Regions from separate parts of the Homo sapiens genome. Here region 1 is linked to region 2. Evidence: fine-mapped expression QTL. Tissue or cell type: whole blood. Region 2 holds a variant in brackets; the other region holds the start of a gene. All regions are shown on one strand. Distances are between the middles of the regions.

Region 1 (8,100 bases), 25 kb after region 2:
GGGGTGAGGCCGTCCTGGGTACTGCAGGGTGCCGAGCAGCAACCCTGGCCTCCACCAACTCCAAACCAGGGGGTCCCCCAAATCATGACAAGCACAAATGTCACCAAGAATCCCTGGGGCACAGAATTGTTCCTGGTTGAGAACCACTGGTCAAGGGAGGGAAAAGGCAGACAAAAGGAATAATCAGAGACAGAAACAAAAGAAAATGGGACAATCATTCAACCTCTGAAGGGCACACTACACTGCAATTTTCTGGCACCTAATAACAAAAACAGCTATTCTCAAGCCAGCTCTCTCTTATCAAGTTCCAGGCACCTGATCAAATAATTGAATGTGGGTTTATCCTCATAATGACCCTCCGAGGCATCTGCTTTTACAACTCGTTTGCGAAAGAAGGAACAGTTTGCTCAGAGAGGGAAGGCGACTCACCCAGGTTTACACAGCGGGTGGGAGGTGGTGGTGGACGGTCCTGAATCCCAGATTTCCCCCACCTCTAGCACGATATGCAGAAGAAGACTCTAAACATGATATAAGACGAACGCCTGCTAATTCTTTGGAGTTCTCAGATTCCGCTGGACCCTGCGGCTCTCCTTCTCCTAGGCAGGGACTTTTGAACAACGCCCGTTTTACAGAGGGGAAAACTGAGGCTCCGAGAAGCCAAGAGGCTGGGCAAGGTCACCCAGGTAGGGACTGGCGGCGCTGGAACCAGAGTTCCGACTTCAGTCCCCACAAACGGGGGTCCCTGAGTCACAGGGACGACGTTTCCAGGCGGTTAATAAGAGCGGAACGGCAGCGAACACCCAGCGAGCGCTCACTACATGCGGGGCGCCTTCCCCTCCCGCCGTCCTCGCCACCAGGCCGCGGACCAGCATTTCCAGGACCTGGGGCCTGGGGAAGGGAGATCAGGGCTCGAAGGGCCTGCCCGATGGCGCCCGGCCTCAGTTTCCCCTCCGCACCGCCTACTCACAGGACCCCGCGGGTCGCGGTGACCCTGGCCTCACGATCCCCAAACTCTTACGAGCTTTGGGGCCCCGTGGGCCCCGAGCCGCAGACCCCAGACCCACCAGGCTCAGCGCAGTGCCCCTCACTCACCTCTCAGGCGACCGATCCCCGACCCACCGACGGTTGCGCTTGCGCACCGCGGTGCCGCCCGGCCCCGGCCCCAGGGCGCGACGCCTGCGCAAAAGAAAGGCGCCCGGAGTTGCTTCCCTTCTGCACAGGCGCGTTAATGATGGAGGCGGGCGTGGAAGGAAGTGACGCAACGTAGAGGCGGGAACCAGCTGGTTGTTAGGGCAACTGACCTCTGCGACCTAATGGAGGCCGGAAATCGGGTCTGGTTTGCCCTCTAGAGCGGGAATGAAGCGGTGCACGGTGGAACAGTGGCTGACTCCAGCCGGTCGCCGAGCTGACCACGTGGTGCTGGGCCGGCCACGTGGTGCAGCCGCGTTTGGACACCTGGACTCCAGAGCGTCACAGCTGCGCAATGAATGGGAGTCAGTGTTACCCGCTTACTATCTTTGTTCATTTATTCACCCACCCATCTACTCACCCACAAATGCATTCTTTCATGCAGTGTGAGACGTTTGTGAGTATAGAGCCATTTGTAGACAGCAGGTGCCTAATATTCATTCAATATTTATTGCAAAGCAGCCATAAAAACCAGCAAAGTGTCTACTCTCATTATTTTGCATTGGGGTAGACGGACTATAAACTAATAAACTAGTACATAAATAGAGAAACAAATTTCACAGCAAACACTAAGAAAAAAAAAATGAAGGTAGTGTGATTGTCACTGGGAGCTAAGTCGCATGGGATGGGTAGGAAAGATCATCCTTTACATTTGGATTTCAAGGATAGGAAAGTCCAAACGGACCCCAGGCACAGGGAACAGCGAAAATGAACGCCGATGTAAAATTAATCTTGGTGTTGCTCAAGACATGTGATGAGACATTTCCAAGGACGACAGAAAACTGATCACCATCTAAGTTACAGTTGCCAGAAATGTTCTCCCAATTCATTTTCGTCCTACTCAAAATACATGCACGATTAATGGCGTGGATTATTTTAATTTCTTTTGCAGAAATAAAGGAGGTGAGGCCGGCCGTGGTGGCTCACGCCTGTAATCCCAGCACTTTGGGAGGCCAGGGGGCAGATCACTTGATGTCAGGAGTTCGAGACCAGCCTGGCCAACACGGTGAAACCCTGTATCTACTAAAAATGCAAAAATTAGCCGGGCGTGGTGCGGGCATTTGTAGTCCCAGCTACTCGGGACGCTGAGACAGGAGAATCGCTTGAACCCGAGAGGCAGAGGTTGCAGCGAGCCGAGATCGCGCCATTGCACTCCAGCCTGGGCGACTGAGCGAGACTCCCTCCAGCCCCTCCAAAGCAAAAGAAAACAAAACAAAAACAAAAAAAGGGAAGAAAGGAGGTCGGTTGTTTTGGTTTTTGCCAGTTTAATTGTAGTACATTGTTTTTTCTGGGTGCCCTAACAGTTCAAGACAGATGGTTCAAGATGTTTTTTGTTTTAACCCACAACACTGCATGTAGGTCAGGCTACTGCACTGTTCCACAACACCTGTTATTTGACATGAATCCGTTTACTTGCTTTTGTTTCTGACAAAAAAAAAAAAAAAAAAAAAAACTTGGCCCGGCGCGGTGGCTCACACCTGTAATCCCAGCACTTTGGGAGGCCGAGGCGGGCGGATCACGAGGTCAAGAGATCAAGACCATCCTGGCCAACATGGTGAAACCCCCTCTTTACTAAAAATACAAAAATTAGCCGGGGTGGGGGCTGGCGCCTGTAGTCCCAGCTCCTGGAAAGGCTGAGGCAGGAAAATTACTTGAACCAGGGAGGCGGAGGTTGCAGTGAGCCGAGATTGCTGCTACTGCACTCCAGCCTGGGCGACAGAGCGAGACTCCGTCTCAAAAACAACCAAAGCACCAAAACTTCTGGTTAATTTAATTGATTCGTCGGATTCAGATGCTGGAAAGTGGGCCTGGGATATACAGTAAGCGATCAATAATAACACTGGCCCAACACACAGCTATAAGAAGCGAGGCAAGTACACATTAACGCGGTAGCCTGAAGCCCAAGCGAAGTCTCAGCGCAATGAGCCGCGCAGAGGCTCAGAGGCGTCAGCGGCGTGCGCGGTTTCCAAGGAAACCGTCCGTCCTAGCCACCCCAGCGGCTCTGGAATGGTAGAGCAAGAGGCTCCGCCCACGCACCGCCGAGACCAATAACGGACCGGGAGGGTTACGGCGAGTGCGCAGAGGGCTCCAGCGCACTCCCGGCCCTCCTCCTTTAGCTGTGGGCGGGGCTCAGGGGCGCGTGCGTCCTGCCCTCCCTGTGCGCGCGCCGCCCCAGCATGCCCCGGGAGCGCGGGCGGCGGGCCCCTTGGTCCTCAGGCGGCCGTGGCGGCGGTGGCGGCGGTTGGGCCGAGGCAGGCGGCCTCAGTGGCCGAGGTGGCTGGACGCGTAGCAGGTGGAAGGAGGGAGGGAGCCGCAGGCGCAGACCCACCCGCCATGAAGCCCCCCGCAGGTACCGACTACCCCGCTCGCCGGACCCGGGCGTCCCCTGCACCCTCGCTCCTCCCGGGGTCGCGACTTGGGCCTAAGGCTGGAGCGAAGCGACCCCCGAGCCACCCTCGGCCGGGCTGGAGGGGCAGCGGGGGAGGTGGACGACCCTGCTCTCTCGTTTGCCGAATGAATGAACCAGCTTTTCCAGCGCTTCATTCATTCTGCAAAGTTGATGGCGCTTCCCTTCCGGATGGGTCGGGCCCCGTGGCGGACCCTGGGGAGGCCGTGATTTAACGACTCCAGTCCCGTTTTCCTGGAATTCTAGAGCCACAGACAGACATTCAAAAATTAAATAAGAGAGGATCGAAGATAGGGAGGGATCGGTGCTCTGGTGCAGATAAACACGAACGGGGCAGTCCCAGGGACACGTTTTTAGAGAGAGGGTGGTTCCTGGGGGGCTTTTCTGAAGAGGTGAGCGTCGACTTGCTTGATTGGGAGAAGCAAGTGTCCTGCCAAGACCGGGGAAGGAGGCGTCCCGGGAGGAGGGAACGTGTTTGGAGAGCAGAAAGTCAGTTTGGCTGGAACGTAACGAGGGGACCTTTTAATTTTGTTATTTATTTACTTTGTCTCCCAAGCGGGAGTGCAGTGGTGCGATCACGACTCCCTGCAGCCTCGAACTCTTGGACTCAGTCAATCCTCCCGCCTCAGCCACCTGAGTAACTGGGACTACAGGCCTGCACCACCACACTTGGCTAATTTTTTGTAGAAACGAGGTTTCGCCATGTTGCCCAGGCTGGTCTTGAAGTCCTGGGTTCAAGCAATCCACCTGCCTCGGCCTCCCAAAGTGCTGGGATTACAGACATGAGCCACTGTACCCAGCCAAGACCCTTTTAATTTAGAGGCAAAGGGGCGATGTGACCTGTGTACTGTTTATTTATTTATTTGTTGGTTTATTTTTTGAGACAGTCTGTGTCTCCCAGGCTGGGGTGTAGTGGTGCAATCTCTGCTCACACAGGCTCACCGCAACCTCCGCCTCCCGGGTTCAAGCTATGCTGCTTCAGCCTCCCAAGCAGCTGGGATTTCAGGCGCCCACCACCACACCTGGCTAATTTTTTTTTTTTTTTGGAGATAGAGTCTTGGTCCGTCACCCAGGCTGGAGTGCAGTGGCGCGATCTCGGCTCACTGCAAGCTCCGCCTCCCAGGTTCACGCCATTCTCCTGCCTCAGCCTCCTGAGTAGCTGGGACTACAGGCGCCTGCCACCACGCCCAGCTAATTTTTTTTGTATTTTTAGTAGAGACGGTGCTAGCCAGGATGATCTCCATCTCCTGACCTCGTGATCCACCCGCCTCGGCCTCCCAAAGTGCTGGGATTACAGGCGTGAGTCACCACGCCCGTCACACCTGGCTAATTTTTGTATTATTAGTAGAGATGGGGTTTCACCATCTTGGCCAGGGTGGTCTCGAACTTCTGACCTCAAGTGATCCGTCTGCTTCGACCTCCGAAAGTGCTGGGATTACAGGCATGAGCCACCGTGCCCGGCCTGGGTTTTAGAAGGTCACTCAGGTTGTTGAAGCAACTCCTTGCCTGATCCTTGGCTTTTCTCTTGCCCAGCCACACTCCCCCAGCTCTTTGTCCAGCCCATTGCGATGAGGGTGATAATTGTAATAATGATAGTCAGGGATATTCAGGCCTTGGGAAGGAAGGAATGTTGTCTGCCTTGTTTGCTACTGGATCCTTGGCACAATCAGTAAATATTTACAGGATGAACTGACGTCCACAAGTTTTTCAAATCCTAACTCCTGCAGGAGAATTTTCTGACAGTTCCAGTTCCCATCCATCTCCATCCTTTCTGAGCCCCTGAAGCTCTTCTTTACCCCACGGTTTAATGTAGATCCACAGTCCCTTTTTTGCAGTTCTAAAATCCTAAATACTCTGTAAACTGAAAGGTTTGCCTTAAGTTTACAGCAAAGTCATTTGGCCAGAAAATGACCTCAACTGACCGACTGAGAGCCTTTCTTTTTCCCACTTAGCGAATATCATTGATTCTCAGCTGGGGTGATTGTGCTACCTCTGGGGACACTGGACGGTGTCTGGGGACATTTGTGGTTGTCACAGTTGGGGGGCGCTCCTGGTATGGAATGGATGGAGGCCGGGGACGCTGCTCAGCACCCTGCAGTGCCCAGGACAGCTCCACCCCAGAAAACGATCCGGCCCCAATGGCCACAGTGCAGACAGAGAGACACCCTGGTGCGTATTCCTGCATCTCACTGCAGAAAGAGTAATTTGATTTCGGAGTGCTGCCTCAGCCTCCCTAGTGATTTGGAATACATGGCACTTGGACTCTATTAATACTGTTCTACAATGGGGGGAAATTCTGAATGTTAAAATGTCCCCGGCCCCAAGACTTTTTGGACAGGAGAGCATGGTCTGTAATAACAGCTACCTCTTGAAAACTTTCTGGTGGTATTCAGGATACAAGATGTTTTGCCTTCATACCTCACTGAATTCTTAGACAGTTCTTGTTCTCTGCACCCTGAATTGTTCCCGTTTTGCAGGTGGGAAGCCTGAGAGTTAATGTTTCTTGCCAGAATCCCAGAACTAGCAACTGGCAGAGGTGGGGTCCGCACCCAGGCCATCTGACTTCAGCTTCTGCGTTCTGAGCTAGCTTGTTGTGCCTGCCCCAGCCTTTGTAAAAATGCACATCTGATTGTTAGTGCCACTGTCCCATCCCCTTCCTGTCCCTTTCCAGGGCTCCACCTTGCACTCAGGATTGAAGTTCAAAGCCTTCATTGTCATCTACACCAGGAGTTGGCAAACTCCAGCCTGCCTATTTTTTTTGAGACGGAGTTTCACTCTTGTTGCCCAGGCTGGAGTGCAGTGCTACGATCTCAGCTCACTGCACCCTCCACCTCCCAGGTCCAAGCGGTTCTCCTGCCTCAGCCTCCTGAGCAGCTAGGATTACAGGTGCCTGCCACCACACCCAGCTAATTTTTGTATTTTTAGTAGAGACGGGGTTTCTCCATGCTGGCCACACTGGTCTTGAACTCCTAGCCTCAGGTGATCCACCCGCCTTGGCCTCCCAAAGTGTTGGGATTACAGGCACAAGCCACAGCATCCGGCCAAGATGGAGTCTTGCTTTGTCGCCTAGGCTAGAGTGCAGTGGTGCAATCTCAGTTCACTGCAACCTCTGGCTCCTGGGTTCAAGCGATTTTCCTGTCTCGGCCTCCAGAGTAGCTAGGATTACAAGCCCGCACCACCACACCTGGCTAATTTTTGTATTTTTAGTAGAGACGGGGTTTCACCATGTTGTCCAGGCTGGTCTCGAACTCCTGACCTCAAGTGATCCGCCTGCCTTGGCCTCCCAAAGTGCTGGGATTACAGGCGTGAGCCACCGTACCTGGCCAGGCCTGCCTATTTTTGTACACCCCTGGAACTGAAGATGATTTTTGGATGAGACAGAAACCATATGTGGCCCACAAAGCTGAAAATCCTTGGCCCTTTGCAGAACTGTTTGTTGGCCCCCTGGGTCCTCTGCAGAACTGTTTGCTGGTCCCCTGGGTCCTCTGCAGAACTGTTTGCTGGCCCCCTGGACCCTCTGCAGAACTGTTTGCTGGCCCCCTGGGCCCTGCACGGTTAGGTGTTTCCAGGTGGTTTTGCCACCTTCTCTGTGCCGAGCCGCACTGACTTCACATAGTCGCCCTTCCCGCAGCTGCTCTCGCTGCCAGGAGCCCCCGCCTGCCATTCTTGTTTTCAGGCTCCATTTACCCGTTTCTCAGAGAGGCCCTGGTGTGAGTGGCCGGGCCACATATGACTCGCCCGTAGCACCTGTGGGTCTGGCACGACCACACGCCAGGCTGACTTTCTTGTTGAGTTCATGAATGGAGGCCTGCTTGTTCCCCCCACTGGGTGTGGGGTGTGGAAGAAGCAGACAGAAGAAGGGACTCCTCCCGAAAACCCCCCGATACCTCACCTTTCCCCTCTGGCATGGCAGGAGTTGAGCAGTGCGTGGGTGGTCCTGGACTTCCCCTTTTGTGAACACCCAGGGGTTTGTACAGGCTGATCTGTGCATGGTGTCTCCACTCTAGGGCAGGGGGATTTTTTTTTTTTCTCTTTGAGATGGAGTCTCGTTCTGTCGCCCAGGCTGGAGTGCAGTGGCGCGATCTTGGCTCACTGCAACCTCCACCTCCCGGGTTCAAGCAATTCTCCTGCCTCAGCCTCCTGAGTAGCTGGGATTACAGGCATGCGTGCCACCACGCCCAGCTAATTTTTGTATTTTTGGTACAGATGGGGTTTCACCATATTGTTCAGGCTGGTCTCAAACTCCTGACCTCGTGATCTGCCTGTCTCGGCCTCCCAAAGTGCTGGGATTACAGGCGTGAGCCACCAAGCCTGGCCGGGCAGGGGGATTTTTAACAGCAGTATCATCTCTATTCCGGGCTGATCGTTCTCTGCTGGGGCCGTCCTGGTCACTGCAGGGTACTAAGCAGGATCCCTGGCCTCCACCCACTCCACGCCAGGAGCATCTGCAACCGCGACAGCCACATGTGTCCTAGATGTCACCCAGGGTTCCCTGGATGGGATTG
Region 2 (8,100 bases):
CCAGTGTCCAGACAGGCTCCACAGCCCCCGGGCGTCACTCCTGCTGGCTGCCCTCACTGCCAGGCACTCACGTGGTGTCACTCCTGCTGGCCACCCCCCAGCCCCCGGCCCCATGCACTCACGCAGCGTCACTCCTGCTGGTCGTCGTTGCTGGCGCTGGGCGTCCGACTCCGGATCTGGCTCCTGAGCTGCTCTATCAACTCTGGGTTCTGCTGCTGCATCTGCTGGGCAAACTGCTGGCCCCTGCGGGGAAGGGCACATGGGGCTCAGCCAGGGCCAGGAGGCTGCCTGCTGCCTCCGTCCATCCCCAGCTGACCCCTCGGGCCCTCCACCCCAAAGACAGGCCTGACCCCTCGCTGGAGGACGCTGGGCCCTTCGGAGCAGGGGACGCAGCACTTTCGCTCTCCTCCTTCCCTTCCGCCTGCGAGCCCTGCCCGCCGCCCACGTCCTCCGTCCTCTTGGAAGCAGTTCCACTCACGCCTGGATGAGGCTGGCCAGGTCGTTCTGCGAGGGGCTGGTGCCGGGAGTTCCCAAGGGGTTGTTGCCACCCGAAATCATGCCGGACATGCTGCAGGAGAGAGCGCGTGACTCGCAGCCGGGACAGCCTGACCGCCACCCCCACTGCAGGCCCTCGCAGTGGCCCGGGAGAGAATCCCTCTCAGCCCTTCACCTTCCCCTGCAGGAGAGGATTCTCTCTCACCACCTGGTGGGCCTCCAGGGCCCAAACCCACCCTGTGACTTTCACCTGCTTTCCCAGAACACCCCTCTTTCTTTGGCCTAAAGAGCGTAGTTCTCAGCCAGGGGGTGATCCTGCCCCCAGAGGACCCCTGCAATGGCAGCGGACATTTGCAACAGCCATGATTGGGTTACGCCAAGACAGGGGCAGGGGGTGCTCCTGGCATGGAGTGGATGGAGGCTAGAGACAGTGCTCAGCACCCTGCAGTGCCCAGGACGGCCCTGCTCCAGAAACTGGTCCAGCTCAAATGGCCACGGTGCTGTGGCTGGGAAACCATGCTTTAAGATTTGACCGTGGGCCAGCCGCGGTGGCTCACACCTGTCATCCCTGCACTTTGGGAGGCTGAGGCGGGTGGATCACCTGAGGTCAGGAGTTCAAGACCAGCCTGGCCAACATGGTGAAACCCCATCTCTACTAAAAATGCAAAAATCAGCCGGGCATGGTGGTGGATGCCTGTAATTCCAGCTACTTGGGAAGACCCACTTGATCCCGGGAGGCAGAGGTTGCAGTGAGCCAAGATTCTGCCACTGCACTCCAGCCTGGGTGACAGAGCAAGATTCTGTCTCAAAAAAAAAAAAAGGAGAAAGAAAAAAAGATTTCACCATGAAAACAGGTGAGCAGCTCCCCAGTGCGCACAGCGCTTACTGGGGAGTGACCCTATGAGCCAGCGAGTGCACTCAGAAGTTTATATCCAAGAGAAACGAAAACAGGATTCACACAGACGATTGCACACCCGTGCTCAAGCAGCACCGTTCACAACAGACAAAAGGTAGAAACAGCCCAAATGTCCATGGATAGATGTGTGGATCAGCACAGCGTGGTCCCTCCACACTGGAATATTACTCAGCCATGAAAAGGAGCGAGGCCCTGACCCAGGCCCCAGCACACATGCACCTTGAGGACGTCACGCTCAGTGAGAGACGCCAGACACCAAAGTTCACGCAGTGTGTGATCCCATTTCTACGAAATGTCCAGGACAGGCCCATCCACAGAGACAGGAAGGGGATGCGTGGTTGTCAGGGGATAGGAGAGGGGTTGGGGAGTGACAGCTGAGGGGGAAGGGGCTTCTTTCGGAGGTGATGAAGATGGGTTGGTGCTCAATGGTGGTGACAGTTGCATGACAGTGTGATGGTGGTGACAGTTGCATGACAGTGTGATAGTGGTGACAGTTGCATGACAGTGTGAAAGTCCTTAATGCCATTAAGTTGCACACTTTAAAGTGGTTAGTTTTATGTTAAGTGAATTTACCCACAATAAAAGGAAATTTAACCACAACAAGACCCGAAGAAACCCGGTTGTCACTTACAGCTGCTGAATCTGGGGATTGTTCATTAGGTTCGAAGCCTGAAGAACAGAACAAATTTGTCAGGAAGACAAAGCTCCCAGCGCATCATTCTCTTTCATCAGACACTTTCCATCTTAACCAGCCTTGGTTCTGGACTCCAGCACGCCAACCAACAGTAAGAGCCGGGCATTCGGTCTTTCATACCCTTTTCCCTACATTTTCGCCCCCCCACCCACGAGCTGTGACCTCCACATTGTGACTTAAATCCTGTTTTGGGTTCCTGCTTCAGGAGCGATCTCGCAGCGCCACAGCGCTCTCTCACTGGCTGCTGCGGTTTTGCTGTGTGGAGGCGTTTTGGTTCTTTATTTTAGCTGCTGTCTGCTTTAGCATATTTCATTTAGCATATTTGGTTCCAGTTTTGCTCTATCAATAAATAGCACTGTGGCTGGGCGCGGTGGTTCACGCCTGGAATCCCAGCACTTTAGGAGGCCGAGGCAGGCAGATCGCTTGAGGTCAGGAGTTCGAGACCAGCCTAACCAACATGGTGAAACCCCGTCTCTACTAAAAATATGAAATTAGCCAGGTGTGGTGGTGCATGCCTGTAGTCCCAGCTACTTGGGAAACTGAGGCACAAGAATCGCCTGAACCTGGGAGGGGGAGGTTGCAGTGAGCCGAGATCACACCGCTGCACTCCAGCCTGGGTGACAGAGTGAGACTCTGTCTCAAAAAAGAAGTAAAAATAAATAAATAAATAAATAGCACTATACTGGGCACTTTCTCATGTTAACTTTCCACTTGGGATTATTCCTTTGGACCTGTTGAAAGGAGGTGGCTCAGAGGTGTGGCAAACTCTCTGTGTAAAGGGCCAGTGTGTAAATACTCTCAGCCTTTTCAGACACGGGTGCCTGACGCAACTACTCAGCTCTGCCGCCGTATCATGAAAGCCACCAGTGACACTAGGTGTATGAATGGGCATGGCTGTGTGCCAATAAAACTTTATTGGTCAGGTGTAGTGGCTCACACCTGTAATCCCAGCACTTTGGGGGGCCGAGGCGGGTGGATCACAAGGTCAGGAGTTCGAGACCAGCCTGGCAAACATGGTGAAACCCCATTTCTATTAAAAAATACCAAAATTAGCCAGGCATGGTGGTGGGCACCTGTAATCCCAGCTACTCGGGAGGCTGACGCAGGAGAATCGCTTGAACCTGGGAGGCGGAGGTTGCAGTGAGCTGAGATCACACCACTGCACTCCAACCTGGGCGACAGAGCGAGACTCCATCTCAAAAAAAAAAAAAAAAAAAAAAACCAAAAAAAACTTTATTAACAAAACCCAGCGGCGGGCCTTATTCTGCCAACCCCAGAT[G/A]TCTGAAGGGAAAAGGCGTCTGTGACATGGCCAAGCTGAGAGGCCCCTTGAAAGACTGGGGCCCAGTCACCCTCCATCCCATGGTGAGGGAGAACATATTCCCCTGGCAGCTTGGCCAGCGGACGAGGGCTACAGTAAGAGGTGTGGCCTCTGCTGAATGGCACGACCCGGGCAGGGCTCCTGGCCCAGCTGGCTCATTTTTCTGACTGACAGTGAGACTGAGGGCTTTTCTCCCCGACAGCCTTAGGCGAGTCCCTGTACCCTGAGGCTGTGGGAGCCTGAAGAGTGGTCCCAGGGCACACAGACCTCCCAGGAAATGAACATGTGTGTGTGGGGGATGGCTCTCCGAGGATCCCAGTCAAGGAACTCCCTGCCAAAGGCCGTCCCTTTGGAAGCATGAGTGCCCGGGCATCGGGAGGTCCACCTGCGCCCGGCGCACCCGGCGCTCTGCTTCCCTTGCCTGAACCTTAGGAGGCAGACGCTGCTGTGTTGTGATCAGTGTCTCTGCACTGCGAGGAGGAGCCCACGCCAGGGTGGGGTGGGGGTGTGACCTCCCTGGGCTCAGCCAGGAGAGCCAGCTTTTGGTGCTCACTACTGATGGGTCTTGCTTGGGACATCAACATTGGGGACACTTTTGATTGTCGAAGCAGAGGGTGGGGGTGCTCCTGACATGGGGCGGGTGAGGCCAGGGGTGCTGCCAGCGCCCTGCGGTGCCCAGGACGACCCCACAGACAAGACCCATCTGGTTCCAGAAGCCAGCAGTGCCAAGGCAAGGAAGCCCTGGCCAGTAGCGGACACAGCAGATGCGGGCCTGGGGGGTGGCGCAGACACCATGGACAGGGAGGAGGGGCGGGCCGTTACCATGCTCATGAAGCCAGGGTTGTTCAGCAGGCCGGCGATGTCGAAGCTGCCCACGCCTCCCGTCTGAGGATGAGAACAGCCCTGGTTAGTGGGGCCTGGACCAGAGGCCACGGTGAATAACCCCCTGGAACTCAGAAACAACGGCCCCCCACGGGGCTCAGACATTCTATCAACCCTGCGGCCAGAGGGTGCTTTGAGGCAGGCAGCACGAAGCACATCGCAACCGCCCGGGGACGGCACAGTCTGTCATCCCGTGTTTATTCCCCGCACAGCGCGACCGCCCGGGGACGGCACAGTCTATCATCCCGTGTTTATTCCCCGCACAGCGCGACCGCCCGGGGACGGCACAGTCTATCATCCCGTGTTTATTCCCCGCACAGCGCGACCGCCCGGGGACGGCACAGTCTATCATCCCGTGTTTATTCCCCGTACAGCGCGACCGCCCGGGGACGGCACAGTCTATCATCCCGTGTTGATTTCCTGTATTCTGCCGCTTTGACACCTTGGGGCCTTGCTGGCCTGGCAGAGCCGCCCCCTCCTGGAGTAGCCAATTCCCAGAGAAAGCAAATGACTCACCCAGAAACGCACCTTTGAAATACAAACAAACTAACCCAGAACCCACACCCTCAGCACCTCCCCCATCACCCCAGGGCCACAGTCCACCTGCCCCACTCACCCCCAGGCCAGGGACCAGGCAACCAGGGGCAGCCCCCAGGCCTGGGTCTAATGAAATGGCTCCAACCAGCCAACCCGAAGCCTCCTCACCCGGCCTCGCCACAAAACCCACATCGAGGGTCCTTTCTGTGCCCCTCCCTCAGCCTCCGCGGGCAGCCCTGCGGCCGGCCTCCTGCTTCCAGGGGTCTGGGGGCATGAACCTTCTCACGACACTCACTTCCACGCCTGTGCATCTCACCACCAACTGAAACAAACCCCGGACCCTCACGACACCCAGGTTAAGCCTAGAGCCACTGGTGCGCCCGAGGACCTGTCCCCCACCCACACAGTCAGCTCGGCGTTCTGGAGCCACTCGCCCCCGCTGCACTCACGGGGCTGGGGGCCTCCCGCAGCTTCAGCTCCGCTATCTTGAGGTTGGACTTGTATGTCTCGTTGTCGGGGTCCAGCTCCAGAGCCTTCTTGTAGTAAGCCACGGCCTCCACGTGCTTGTTGAGGCTGGAGAGCGCCAGGCTGGAGGAGAGCACCGGGGATGGACTGTTCCCATCTGCCCAGCTCCAGGAGGCCCCGCCAAAGCCCTCGTCCCCGGCGGTCCTGGCAACCCCCAAACCACCTCGGATGGTGCCACCCCCTGCCCGCTGTCAGCTCAGTGGAGACAAACCTGGCTTTCGAGGGGCCCAGGGGCAGGACTGAGGGAGACAGACATGAGAACACCCCTGCCACACAAGAACTGGAGTCCCCATGGGGCCACACACAGGGCCTCAAAGCCCAGAGCGGGCTGAGAGGAGGGAGCGGGCCAGCTCAGGGTCACAGGAAATGCGTGGATGTTGTCTTGGCCCCGCTTCCCGGCACAGGGCACCAAGGACCCTCGGAACCTCTGAGCGACAGACATGTCTCCCGTCATCCACAAGCAGCCCCTGACCCCCACCTGAGTGAGTCTTCACTCGTGAGGTGACTCAGGGCCCCTACAGAGCCCAGGAGGAGGCGGGTCCTGGGGAGACTGGGCAGTTGAACAGGGCCCCTCCCCAGCCTCTGGGGAGACCCAATCCCACAAACTCTGAGCAAGGGCATTCAGAGAAGCAGGCGAATGCACGCTTATGCTGGGAGGGCGGCACCGGCTGCACGGGGCGCAGGCTCCTGCCCCGGGGACCCTCCTGGCCTCACTCTCGGACCTGTCCTGTGTCCTTCATCATAAACCAGGTGCTTCCCTGAGCTCTGTGAGCCGCCCCAGCAAACAATGGAGCCTGAGTAGGAGCCATGGGAACCCCAGGTGACAGCCAGTCAGGGAGAAGCAAGGGGCCCAGGGATCTCCGGGTGGCACCTGATGCGGGGCGTCTGTGGGGCTGAGCCTGTGACCTGTAGGGACTACGTTGGCTCCGAACAGCTAGTGTCAGAGTTGAACTGAACCGGGGTGGGAGAATTCGTTGTGGGTGGGAAAAAAGCCACACAAGAGAGGAAGCAGGAGCAGGAGAGGAGGGGTCCCGAGAGACTGGAAAGGCGCGGCCGTGGACAGGCACTCACCCCATCCTGCCGTAGGCCTTGCTGTAGGCCGGGTCAATGCAGATGGCCCGCTCACAGTCCTGCACCGCGCCTGCGTAGTTGCCGAGTTTGCTGTAGGCTGCGGCTCTGGGGAAGAAAAGGCAGGGCAGGTCCCTCACTGGCGGCTCTGAGCCCAGCGGGCAGCCCTTGAGGGGAGCCTGAGAGCTGCGTTCCTCTCCAACTTCCTGGAGGAACGGCCTCAGTTTTCCCCATCTGTAAAATGGGGCTGATGGGGAAAGCTGAGAGGTGTGGCCACTGAGATGCTCTTAGACAAATGTGGGCTCAAAGCACCAGCAGCCACTCAGGACTGCGACTCTGAATTTTATTTGCAAAAAATGTTCCGATCCATGGCTGTACAAGAGCAATGAGGGTAGGGAACTTATACCCAAGTTTCATTCACAAATTATTTACATATCAGTAAAAAAAGAACTCAGACCAATGTCAAAGCTCAAAGCTCTTGGCTTACAGCGTCTGAATCGTCTTCACCATTTTCGTGTTTAGTGTTTCTCTTTACAATTTTTTCAAAGTACAGAGAAGAGTGAGTGGAGACTAAACTACCCCATGACAGGCGGCCAGGAACCCTGCACTGCCTCTGCAACTGTCCTGTAAGCCTGAAGCAGATCCAAGACCACACATTCAAAAAACACAACCCTCCACATACTGGATTATTTTCTTGGCTTGACATCCACGTGGAATGCCATGATACCTGATTTTCTATGTATGTATTTATGTATTTATTATTTTTGAAACAGGGTTTTGCTCTGCTGCCCAGGCTGGAGTGCAGTGACACGATCTCAGCTCACTGCAACCTCTGCCTCCCGGGTTCAAGTGATTTTCCTGCCTCAGCCTCCCAGGTAGCTGGGACTACAGGCACCCACCACCACATCCAGCTAATTTTTGTGGTTTTTTTCGGGGTTTTTTTGAGACAGAGTCTCCCTGTCACCCAAGATGGAGGGCAGTGGCGCAATCTTGGCTCACTGCAACCTCTGCCTCCCAGGTTCAAACCATCCTCATACCTCAGCCTCTTGAGTAACTGGTGGTGCCCACCACTACACCCGGCTAATTTTGTATTTTTAGTAAAGACGGGGTTTCACCATGTTAGCCAGGCTGGTCTTGAACTCTCAACCTCAAGTGATCCCCCCCGCCTCAGCCTCCCAAAGTGCTGGAATTACAGACGTGAGCCACCGCGCCTGGCCCCCAGACTAATTTTTACATTTTCTGTAGAGACGGGGGTCTTGATATGTTGCCCAGGCTAGTCCCGAACTCCTAGCCTCAAGTGATCTTTCCCCCATGGCCTCCCAGAGTGCTGGGCGTGCTACCTGATTTTAAATCAGCATCGACTCTCCCCGACCCCGTTGCTGGTCACCTGATGCTCGCTCCTGGTCTGAGACCACCGGTGAATGGATCCCTCATCTACAGCGCAGAGGCCTCTCCCATCTCAGGTCCCTGCTAAGCATCCCGGAGGACGCCCCCGCACCCGGCCGCCCCTGCCCTGGGCAGGCCCTGAGCTGGTACCTGTTGCAGAAATAGACGGCGTTGGCTGGGTTGAGCTCGATGGCTTTTCCGTAGAAATGCACGGCAGCTTCAAAGTTTTCCACTTTCATCTGCTCGTTTCCTACAGGGAGAGAGGAAAACACCGGCCCG

Evidence for each region. PIP is the estimated chance that this variant, and not a neighbour inherited with it, causes the effect.
Region 1: it holds the start of THOP1, and the variant in region 2 is fine-mapped to the expression of THOP1 in whole blood (INTERVAL, PIP above 0.99).

What each region holds. Positions count from the first base shown.
Region 1 is chr19:2,782,141-2,790,240 of GRCh38, forward strand. THOP1 (thimet oligopeptidase 1) reads left to right here and starts at 3,363. Exons shown (of 13, transcript NM_003249.5): 1 at 3,363-3,538. The coding sequence starts at 3,523. It overlaps SGTA (small glutamine rich tetratricopeptide repeat co-chaperone alpha), which reads right to left and starts at 1,133. Exons shown (of 12, transcript NM_003021.4): 1 at 1,093-1,133. RefSeq lists silencers at 1,055-1,104, 3,050-3,159, 3,190-3,649 and enhancers at 1,495-1,564, 4,627-5,153, 5,154-5,680, 7,333-7,622.
Region 2 is chr19:2,757,215-2,765,314 of GRCh38, forward strand. It overlaps SGTA (small glutamine rich tetratricopeptide repeat co-chaperone alpha), which reads right to left. Exons shown (of 12, transcript NM_003021.4): 5 at 7,972-8,071; 6 at 6,439-6,543; 7 at 5,292-5,430; 8 at 4,246-4,308; 9 at 2,043-2,080; 10 at 479-568; 11 at 123-243. The coding sequence ends at 129. Among named protein-coding and RNA genes, the nearest start is that of SLC39A3, 21 kb to the left of the region's middle. The variant G/A (reference allele first, on the strand shown) is at 3,385.